Linked DNA regions of Homo sapiens. The protein of the gene in region 1 purifies or fractionates together with the protein of each later gene. This does not show direct contact. Each region holds a gene or a part of one and is shown on either strand. Other genes may lie near its edges.

Region 1 (3,505 bases):
TGCTGCATGGCTGCCACTGCAGTGGCTGTGACCATGGGGGGAAGGGGGATGAATTCGGGAGAGTCTCTAGACAATATGCTGGGACTCAGCATTGTGTGGTGAGGGCCCAGTTTAATCTGAGAGGTTGGTGTTTGGTGTCGGCTCATGCTGAAGGGTTTAGAAGAAGATATAAGAAAAACTGAGTGCAGGAGGCCAGGCACGGTGGCTCATACCTGTAATCCCAGGAATTTGGGAGGGTAAGGCGGGTGGATCACTTGAGGTCAGGGGTTTGAGACCAGTCTGGCCAACATGGTGAAACGCTGTCCCTACTAAAAATACAAAAAATTAGCCGGGTGTGGTTGTGCACTGGGTGTGGTGGTGCCCTCCCAGCTGCTTGGGAGGCTGAGGCAGGCTGATCACTTGAGGTCAGGAGTTCGACATCAGCCTGGGCAACACGGTAAAATCTTATCTCTGCTAAAAATACAAAAATTAGCTGGGCGTGGTGGTGCATGCCTGTAATCCCAGCTGCTCGGGAGGCTGAGGTAAGAGAATCGTTTGAACCCAGGAGGCAGAAGTTGCAGTGAGCTGAGATCGCACCACTGCATTCCAGTCTGGGTGACAGGTAAGATTTTGTCACAAAAAAATAGAAAAGGAAAAAGAAAAGAAAAGAAAAACTGAGTGCAGGAAATAAGAGAGGTTGAGACTGACAGGTTTGCGGTGGCTCATGGGCCCGCCCTGTGTTGTCACTGTATCCTCTAGAAAGGAGCCTTAGGGTGTGGCTCGTCCTCGCAACACCATCCTGAGTATGCTTACAGCCACCCCTGGCCAGCTGCCCTGGATGGTCCCACCTCCCAGCTCTGCTAACCACCTAGCACCATGGTTTGCCTTGTCTGATGCTTAGAGAGGGACCCAGGGACCCAGTCTCACATGTGCTTCTGACCTGTATGCTCATCTGTTGCCTAAGAGCCCGAGGGCGGGCCATGCTGCAGACATCCTTACTTCTGGGCCCCAACCTGAGCATGTGGAACAAAACTCAAAACAATGCATCTGCAGACGCATAGCCCAAACTTGACAATGGTCACACTAGCCCAGCCCTCCACTGGGCTGCCAGCTTCTGCCTTCAGAGTTCTAACCTAAGAACTAGTACAGGGTTGTCTTTAAATTGAGAGAGAGGAAGGCTGGGCACAGTGGCTCATGCTTATAATTCCAGCACTTTGGGAGGCCAAGGTGGGTGGATCACTTGAGCCCAGGAGTTCGAGACCAGCCTGGGCAACATGGTGAAACCCCGTCTCTACAAAAAATTAGCTGGGTGTGGTGGCTCGTGCCTGCAGTCCCAGCTACTCAGGAGGCTGAGGTGAGAGGATCACTGGAGCCCAGGAGGCGGAAGTTGCAGTGAGCCAGATCACACCACTGTACTCTCCAGCCTGGGTGACAGAGCAAGACCCTGTCTCAAAAACAAACAAACAAACAAAAAACTTGTGGGAGAGGTTGTCAAAGGAGAAATCTGGGGGTGGGATATCCTTTCAAAGAGATGCCTGGCTGGAGACAATTTCTGTTCTTCTCCCTAGCTAAGCCCTTCTAGCAAGCCTCAAGCTGCCTTTTGCACTTCCCTCCTCTCCTGCTGGACCAGGGATGCTGACACCCTTGTGGTTAGAGCCCCCTGTCTCTGGAGGAGCAGGAGGCTTTTGCTGGGGAAGGGGAGTGCCATGAACCAGCTCTGTTGTTTGGGGCTCGTTTCTGAATGGTGCCCCTCCTAGGGCCCTGTCCTGCTGGTTTAGCCCTTGGATGGGAGCATCCTGGCCCTTCCCCCAGGGAGAAGGCCTGGACCCGTTTGTTCCCCCTGCACCCCACTTTGCTGCACCCTCTGTAGGTACACACATTCACACTCACACGAAGGCACATTCACAAAACAAGTCCAACTTGTTTGAGCCAACATGCTGCCTGCCACGGCCTTGGACATGGTGAAGCCAAGCTGCCCACCTTGAGCGAGTGACAGAGCCGTGGCTGAGCAGGGAAGGAGCTCAGGGCGGTGGGGTCAAGAGCCTCACCCCAAGCTCAGGCGAGAGCAGTGCTCTGCCAGCTGCAGCCACATGTTAGCAGAGTATGAAGTCCACTTATTGAGCTGCGACCGGCATTTTTCACAAAAGAAATAGACAAGGAAAGGACTTTAGGTCTAAACCTCCTTCCCAGGCTATATTACTGTGTTTCCCAGACTCTGGGCATCCATGAATCACCACCCCAGGTTTTTTTCCCCCCAGTTTGGTGTACTATACTCTGGTTACTCTTCAGATTGTATAAGTCTTTCGCCTTTTACCAATTTGGTGTACCACTTGAACTGTCATAATGTAATATTTATCTTTAAATTGACCCACTTTATTTTTCCATGTACTCATGCTTGGCGATAATAACAGTAAAATCAAAGCTTTTACGTGCACTTTAAAGGGAATGGGGGCCAGGCACGGTGGCTCATGCCTGTAATCCAGGCACTTTGGGAGGCTGAGGTGGGCAGGTCGCTAGAGCCCAGGAGTTTGAGACCAGCCTGGGCAACATGGTGAAAAACTATCTCTACAAGAAAAAATTACAAAAATTAGCCAGGCATGGTGGCATGCACCTGTGGTCCCAGCTACTTGGGAGGCTGAGGTGGGAGGATCACCTGAGCCTGGGAAGTTGAGCCTGCAATAAGCTGTGATCATGCCACTGCACTGCAGCCTGAGTGACAGAGGAGACCCCGTCTCAATAAATAAATAAAGTGAATATGGAACTGGGGTTTTTCCTGAGCCCCAAGCCTGCCACCCAGAGCGATGATAACTGCCAGAGGGTGGCTCATACTCCCCCATGCCCCACCAATCCTGGAGAGGTCCTACCGTTGGCAGATATCTGACTATGCCAGCTGACCATGCCCTCTGCTTGAGAAGACTTTAGGGAGAAGGCAAGCCTGACTCGTCAGCCACTAGTGTTGGGGTAACCTTGATGTGTGAAGGTCTCGATGCCATGTTTTAATTCCACAGGGCTTGTCTGTCTCAGCATGGCTGAGAAGTCCACAGATTCAGCCACACATGGGTCTGTAAGACTTTGGGCTCTGGCCATTCAGAGCTTAAGGGCTTGAATAATTAAATGGGGAGGGACAATAAGGAGGAGATCTAAGTGCAGAAAGACTTGGAGTTTCCACCCTACCCAGGACCGGGAACATCTTGAGCTCAGCCCATCTTGGAAAGCCGGTCTGATAAAAACTGATGCTTGGGGAATTTGCTGAACTGCCGCCACCTTCTGAGCAGAGTAGAGCCGAGAAGTCGACTTACTGGAGGGGTTGAGATCACTTGGCCTCTAAGGGGGCATCCCAGGGGAGCCTGCCTGAGCAATCAACAGTCACTGCCCTCTACCACCTGCAGGGGCTTCTACACTCTGGCCTGCTGTGGTGCCAGTCGAGTCTCACCTGGAGGACGAAGCTAGGGCCAGCTGGTGGGGCATCCAGGGCCCAGGTCACTGCAGTTCCATGGCCACCCCAGGGTCAGCACAAGCTCCAGGA
Region 2 (4,005 bases), on another chromosome or scaffold:
ATCCTCCAATTTCGGAATATCAGACTCCCATTTTTTCTCCCAGGAAATGAAACTACCTTCCCAAGCTCCCTTTCTGTGCTATATCCAGCTCTCATACTTTCCAGCCTCAGATATAGGTTTTCCAGCATTCCTAATGACAAATTCCTTGAGTGAAGGATCCACACCTCATTCTTACTTCATTGTCATCTATAGTGATGGCAGTATGTCAGAACCATTCTTCAGTAAATGCTGGCTGAAAGAGTAGATGATGAATGGGGGCTCAGGTGGGTGTTTGTAAGGTTCTAAAGGAAGTTAATATCTAGTATCAATTTTACTTACACAAGAAGAAATCATATGAGCATTTACTGGCTTTAATGCTTTATCTTGTGACCACTGAACAGACCTTTTAGAGCAGGTGTTGGCAAATCAGGCAGTAAATATTTTAGGTTTTGTGGGTCATAAGGTCTCTGTCACAACTATCCAACTCTGCTGTTCTTTCATGGTAGCAGCCATAGACAATATGTAAATGATGACTATGTTGCAGTAAAACTTTGTTTACGATCATCAAATTTTGAATTCATATAATTTTCGTAGCCCTGAAATATTCTTCCATTTTTAACCATGAAATATTGCAAAAAACATTCTTAGCTTGTGGGCTGTACAAGAACAGGCAGCAAACTGTAGTTGCTAACCTGTGGCCTAGACAGGCAAACCTAGGATTAGAAGCACTGAGTAAGGCCGTACAATTGTGTGCTGAAAACCCATTCAGAAGGGAAAGTCCAAGGTGGAATGTAGGAGGCTGTTACTTTTCTTTTGACCCCCACATTTTTCCTCCCTCGGATCATTCCGTATCTTTTTCCTATTTGCTTTGCCGGGATTGTTCTCAATCAATGTGCATACTTTCTCATACCTCAGGCGTTATGTCTCTCGTGGCCGTTTGTGTTTAAATTGAGGGTTTGGGGAAGACTGAAAAACATTCAAGACCCAAAGTAACAGCTTTCTCATGAAGCGTTTACACGCATTGAGAGATATCGTTCCATTGGTGTGAATAAGTCTCTATGTACACACCTGATGAAATATAATGCTGGCTTCTAGTCCCCTCACAAAAGAAACAGGCTTCCTGTTTGCGTGACTTGGGGGCGACTCCTGCTTTTCCCTGGCTGCCCATCAGTTGGCGCCTTTTGCCGTCCTTTTTCCCCAAGCCGCTTTGGGGGCCGCGGTCTCTCCGCAGCTCGCGGGTCACATGGCCCGCCTGAGCAAGGGGAGCCCTGCGCCTGAGCTGCGAGGCGGGAGGAGGTGAGGCTCCGGCGCACACCCAAACCGCGCTGCGCCCGCTCCTTCCGGGCCCCGGAGATGGCGCCTCCACCGGGATGAGCTAGCCAGCCTGGGCAATACCAGAGGCGGCCCTCGGCGCGCGCAGGGGACCGAGCTGGTCGCCCCAACCGGGTAGGTTTCTGTTGCGCACGATCTGCCCAGCCCTTCTGGCGCGGTGGTCGGAGCCCTGGACACTAGAGCGAGGGGACAAGGATTAGGGGTGGCCACAGCTGGCACAAGCAGGGCAGCTGGGGGTTGGGGAGAGTCATCGCAGAGGGCCTGTGCCCCGGGCAGTGCGCCTCGGGCAGGCGGGTTGCCTAGCGGCCCTGCCCGCAGCTCCGACCGCTTCCTGCCGGAGGATTGCGAGGACCCCGCAGGGGTCCCCAGGGCAGCAGGGGCCCGCATCAGTGCGGGGATGGTTGAGTGTCTCGGGGGCGCCTCCCTGGCCCTTGCCTGCGCCAGCTGCGCTGACAGGTCAATAGAAGGACGCGAGCGGGGCGCGTGCCAGTCTGGGTAAGACCCTCGCCGAGCCTAGCAGGGCCGAAGCGCCAAGGGGCCTGGCGCCTAATGGCCGCCCGCAAGCAGGGGACCCTCGCGGCGCGTCCACACCTTAGGTTCGCCGGGCGCGCCGAGAGCGCGGCAGCAGTGTTGGGTTTCTGCGGGCGACCTCGCAGCCAAGGGCTGGGGGAGGGCGACTGGGCAGAGGAAGGCGTCCCTCCCAGGACCAGGAAAAACCAGCAGAAGGGAAGGAGCGCAGCGATGGAGACGGTCAGCTCGGCCTACGGGTGGGAAACTGAGGCTCAAGCGTGGCAGGGACTGCCCAAGGTCAGCGACAGACACTAGATCCAGGGCCCTGGACATCGTCCCCCATTCTTTTTCCAAGAGGGAGGGTTAATTAGATCCACCTGGGTGTGTCTCGCCCTCTTTCTGGCCCTTGGCTCCGGCGTCGCTAGTGTCGCACTGCGCTCGCGGTGTCTTGGGGCGTGAGCTCCTGCAGGGTCGTTGTGACCCGCATCCTCTGCTCGGCCCAGGCTCTCTCCGGGGGACCGCAGGGCGGCTCCAATGATGATCTCACCATGCGGACCATTAGCAACACATGCGGGTGTGTGTGCGCGTGCATGTGTGTGTTTCTCCTTCTATAGGGGAAATAGCTTTTTTTTTTAGGGGTGAATTTCTAGAATGCACTGCACTAGGTACTTTATGAGGTGAGAAGAGAAAATCAACATTATTAGAATTATTAGAATGTTGTAAGGATACACATATTAGAAAACATCCAGTAAACAAAAATCCAAAGGAGAAGCAAAATAAAAATAACTTAAAACTTCAACTTCTAGATGGTTTAGATTTTCTGCATATCTTAAAATTTTCTCTATGTATACACATTTGAAGTTTTAAATCAAAAGCGTGGACCAAAAAATGGTATCTTGTCTTAATTTGCATGTCTTTGATTACCCATGGGAATTAACACTTTTTCCTCTGTGTAGTAGCCTTTTGCATTTCTGTAGGTGAGTTGATTGTTAATTCTTCTGCCCATTTTTCAGTTGGAGTATCTTTCTCCTCCTGACTTTTAAACACTTTATGTGTATTACACATTGAAGTAGTAATTCTTTGTCACGTGTTGCACTATAGCGAGTATTTTCTGTTAATTTTTACTAGTTCTAATTCCAAATGATCTTTTGGATACTTTGGTCAATTTTTTATTTTGATGGTTATATGGGCGTATAAATTTGACAAAACTCATCGAAATATATATATATTTAAGTGGTGCATTGTACTGTATGTAAACTGCACCTCAATAAAATTAATTTTTAAAGGCCTAGAAAATTATCATCCTGGGTAATGAGAGAGAATTTGCCTAGTCAGATATTAAAACCTGTTATAAAGCTTTCATAATGAAAATAACATGGCCCTGGCACCACAATGCAGAGAGAGATAGATGCCAAAATCCACAAACAGATATATATATACATCATTTAATTTATTATAGCTATAGCAACTTAAATCACAAATTTAAAAATGGACTTAACAGGTGCCCTGACTGTCATGTTCACCTTCCCAGTGTCTAACACAAGACTCAGTGTTGAATCAAATGCTTAATTATGATTATAAAAGTAATGATCTTTGCAGAAGTGTAGATATCAAAACAGGAAATTGCCATCCCCATACCCTTCTTTTCTCCTTCACTAAATTATACTCCACATTAAAAATAAAATGGTCATATCTCTGTACATTTTTCTGTAATTTGCACTGATATAGTTTGCATTTCTCCCTTCTGGTCTTAGTCTACTTGAGCTGCTGTAACACATTCTCAAAGACTAGGTGGCTTAAACAACAGACACATTTATCTCTCAAAATTCTGAAAGCTGGAAGTTCCAGATCAGGGTGCCAGCATGGTCAAGTTTTGGTGAGGGCTCTCTTTCCGGTTTACATGTGAGAAAGCAGAGAAGAGAAGTGATCTCTCCTGTCTTTTCTTATAAGGACACTAATAAAGAACATGCATTACTGAGGTCTGCACCCTTATGACCTGATTACCTTCCAAAGACCCCATCTCCAAATACCATCATATTGGAGATTAGGATTTATAACACGAATTTTGGCTGGGCAGGAGGAGGACAAACATTCAGTCCAAAGCACAAACCTAGCTAAGATTTCTTTTATGTCAACATATTTAAACCTTTCTCTTCTTAACATTTCCACAGCATACCCTTTTAT
Region 3 (3,505 bases), on another chromosome or scaffold:
TCTCAGGTGGTTCTGTTAACATTTTCTTGACTAGGTAGCTGTGTTTTATAGTATTTTACTACTGTAAGTAGTTTTATTATTTTGGGGGTTGTTGCATTTAAAAAGTCAACAGTTAGTTCCTTATATTATGTTACCAAAAATAAATGTACTGTCTACTTTACAGTCATTTTATTCTTGGCTTAAGGTTGGGCAATTGTTTACTGGTTAAGCATGAACAACAAAAACATTTAATAAATCAAATAAAGACAGTTCTTATTTAGAATATATAATCTATAGTATAAACATGATAATGAATCTTAAGATATAACAAAAATTTGTGTAAATGAAAAACTTGAGGAAATATAAGAAACTGAAGTTACAATTCTAGTAGGAGATTTTAAACATTATTTTGTATATGATAGATAAAACTAGCAGAGAATAGACATTGGATTTGATAGTATATTAATGTAGAATTAATAAATGCATGTTGGAAATTAGTATCAGAGTTCTCTGTCCTTTTAAGTACTCATGTTCCCCTTATAAATTTGATTGTATGTTAAGTCATAATTAAAAACTTCAGAATCTAAAAGCAGAGATTTTACATGCCTCATGATCTAATCTGTGTCTTTGAAAGTGAAAAATAACTAGCACCAAACACCTGGAAAATTAAAGAACACGCTCCTAAGTAACCATTTTGCCAAGATGGATATTACTGTAGTAATAGCTATATTTTAAGAATAACAAAAATGAGAATATTGCATAGTAAAACTTTGAAGGTGCGTCTTTATTGAGGTTTATTTTTACTTTTATTAGGTAAAAGTAAACGTTTATTATTAAAGGTTTGTTAATAGTAAACCTATTAATTGCTAATTAAAGGTTTTTGTTATTAAAATTGAAAATAAACTGAGGACATCAATTGACAAAGTTCTTGGTTGAGTCAAGATTCTTATTTTTTCCCTCCAACTTTGTTTTTTCTAATTTAAAAAAATAAGCCTGTATTAACTTTATAATTTAAAAATTCTTAATTTAAATTTTCTTGGAGAAAAAGGTCATGAAATGCCATATCGTTATTTTGTACTTTGAAATGCACATTAATCAACACTTTTCTAAAAGTTGCTGGATTTTGTTGTGGTTAACATGTGAGTAATTTTCTTTTTATGAAAAGCTTTGTGAGTTAGGGAATTATGTATTTTCTTTTTTTTTTTTATTCAGTATAAAATTAAAACTATCCAGGATTTGGTGAGTTTAAAAGAATCAGATCGTCACACTCTACTGCACTTCCTTGAAGATGAAAAATATGAAGAGGTTATGGCTGTCCTTGGGAGTTTTCCATATGTGACCATGGATATAAAATCACAGGGTAAGTGGGAGGTTTCTCTGTTGAGCATTGCTTCCCTTTTGATAGATTGGTTCTCATTTATTTGACTCAGGATTCTCAAAACACTGTACTTAATAACATAACTTGTTATTAGACTTTGCAGAACTGTAGTTTACCTGTCAGATTTACTATGTTGGAAAATGATTTATACCTAATAGTTTGAGAACACTGATAGAGTCCTACTTTTATTATCCTCATAATGGGATGAAGTCTGAACACTCTGTTCTGTAGTTCAACTTTTAGCAATTTCTTAACTTTCCAAAGAATGATGAAGACTTCCAGGCATAATAAAAGAATGAGATATTTGAAGTATATTATTAGTATGAAAGAAATAGCTGCCTAGTTCTAAAATTAAATTTTTAAAACCCAACTTATTTATGTTAATTAAATGTTGAAAATTACTGTGTTTTATGCCACATTTCATGTGTTTTTCTTGCCCTACCTCTATATTTTCTTTGAGGGAAAAAAATAAAGGCTATTTTTCTACCTATATAATTGCTCTGTGTTTCTATTTCAATATCTGAATGGTCTTAGAATACTGAGAGAATTAGAGACTATCTGCTCCATTCTTTCATTGTGGTGGTGGTCTGAGCTTTAACATTTGCTAAGTTACTATTATGAGAACATTCTTTTAGTTACCAAGAATACAGGGATATATTAATAATGGTTTCTGTCTTTATTTTATTTATTTATAAATAATTTTTGAGACAGGGTCTCACTCTGTCGTCCAGGCTGGAGTGCAGTGGTGCGATTTTGGCTCACTGCGTCCTCTGCCTCCCGGGCTCAAGCAATCCTTCTACCTCAGCCTCCTGAGTAGCTGGGACTACAGGTGCACACTACCATACCTGGCTAATTTTATTTTTTGTAATTTTAGTAGAGACAGCGTTTCACCATGTTGCCCAGGCTGGTCACGAGCTTCTGGGCTCAACTGCTCCACCTGCCTTGGCCTCCCGCAGTGCTGTGATTATAGGTGTGAGCCACCGTGCCTGGTTTGTGTCTTTAAAGAGAGCTTATTGTCTAGTTGAAGCAATAGGCTTAAAAATAAGATAAGGGCTGGGCCCAGTGGTGTCATGCCTTTAATCCCAACACTTTGGGAGGCCAAGGCAGGGGGATCACTTGAACCCAGGAGTTCGAGACCAGCCTGGGCAACATAGTGAGACCCTGTCTTTATAAAATTAAAAAAAAAACACACACACACCAAGATAACATATGCTAAGTGTTAACGTGAATGACACAGACATTGTACCATTTATTTATACAGCAAATATTGAATGCTGTGCACTCCTCTAGGTGCTAGGGAAGCAGTGGTAAGACATACCCTCTGCTTATTGAGCTTGTATTCTAATAGGAATTCTAATTGGGAAAGGAAGGCAAACAGTGCAATCTGGTTTCAGTTTGGCTGGAGTGTAGCATATGTGTTGTGAAAACTTGGTTTGCTTTGGTGAGGAGTTGGGGTTGCCTTGTGGGGCCATGAGTTTTCAGACTTTAAAAATACTAATTTAAAAGCTGTATTTAGGACTGTGCTGATTTAATAAAACTGTCCAAATAAAAATTTTGGGACTTAGAGATACTTTGTGATATTAAGAACTGTTAAAAGTATACCCTTTTCTTTTCTTTTCTTTTCTTTTTTTTTTTGAGACAGTCTTGCTCTGTTGCCCAGGCTGAAGTGCAGTGGCACTATCTGGGCTTACTGCAACCTCCAACTCTAGGTTCAAGTGATTCTCCTGCCTCAGCCCTCCCAAGTAGCTGGGATTACAGGCGTGTGCCACCACCATGCCCAGCTAATTTTTGTATTTTTAGTAGAGACGGAGTTTCACCATGTTGGCCAGGCTGGTCTCGAACTCCCAGCCTCAGGTGATTCACCCACCTCAGCCTCCCAGAGTGCTGGGATTATAGGCGTGAGCCACCATGCCTGGCCAAAAGTACATGCTTCTTAGAAAAATGAATATTAGAAGAGATTTTCTTATAGAAAGTAGAAATTTAAGAGTGTTCGGCCTCACTGACAAATATTACCATGGATCCACTCCATAGCATCTTGGATAGACAGTTTATTTATATTTTTACAGTGCTGCCTAATTATGTAATAATAGTGCTATAGTTGGTGAAGGAGGAGTAGAAGAAATATAGAAGCAGGAAAGGGGCATCTGC

The links. The genes of interacting proteins can lie anywhere in the genome.
Region 2: the proteins of FA2H (region 1) and PGAP4 purify together in Homo sapiens (affinity purification with mass spectrometry; one large-scale study listed by BioGRID and IntAct). This does not show direct contact.
Region 3: the proteins of FA2H (region 1) and SEC63 purify together in Homo sapiens (affinity purification with mass spectrometry; one large-scale study listed by BioGRID and IntAct). This does not show direct contact.

The regions. Positions count from the first base shown.
Region 1 is NC_000016.10:74,768,321-74,771,825, reverse strand, and holds part of FA2H (fatty acid 2-hydroxylase), read left to right. Parts: intron 1-3,505. UniProt on the Homo sapiens protein: Catalyzes the hydroxylation of free fatty acids at the C-2 position to produce 2-hydroxy fatty acids, which are building blocks of sphingolipids and glycosphingolipids common in neural tissue and epidermis.
Region 2 is NC_000009.12:101,484,369-101,488,373, reverse strand, and holds the start of PGAP4 (GPI-N-acetylgalactosamine transferase PGAP4), read left to right. Parts: upstream 1-1,200; 5' UTR 1,201-1,425; intron 1,426-1,603; exon of another isoform or gene 1,604-1,806; intron 1,807-1,905; exon of another isoform or gene 1,906-2,118; intron 2,119-4,005. UniProt on the Homo sapiens protein: Golgi-resident glycosylphosphatidylinositol (GPI)-N-acetylgalactosamine transferase that catalyzes the N-acetyl-beta-D-galactosamine transfer from an UDP-N-acetyl-alpha-D-galactosamine to the 4-OH-position of the first mannose of the glycosylphosphatidylinositol (GPI) of a GPI-anchored protein (GPI-AP).
Region 3 is NC_000006.12:107,899,204-107,902,708, reverse strand, and holds part of SEC63 (translocation protein SEC63 homolog), read left to right. Parts: intron 1-1,191; coding exon 1,192-1,339; intron 1,340-3,505. UniProt on the Homo sapiens protein: Mediates cotranslational and post-translational transport of certain precursor polypeptides across endoplasmic reticulum (ER). Proposed to play an auxiliary role in recognition of precursors with short and apolar signal peptides.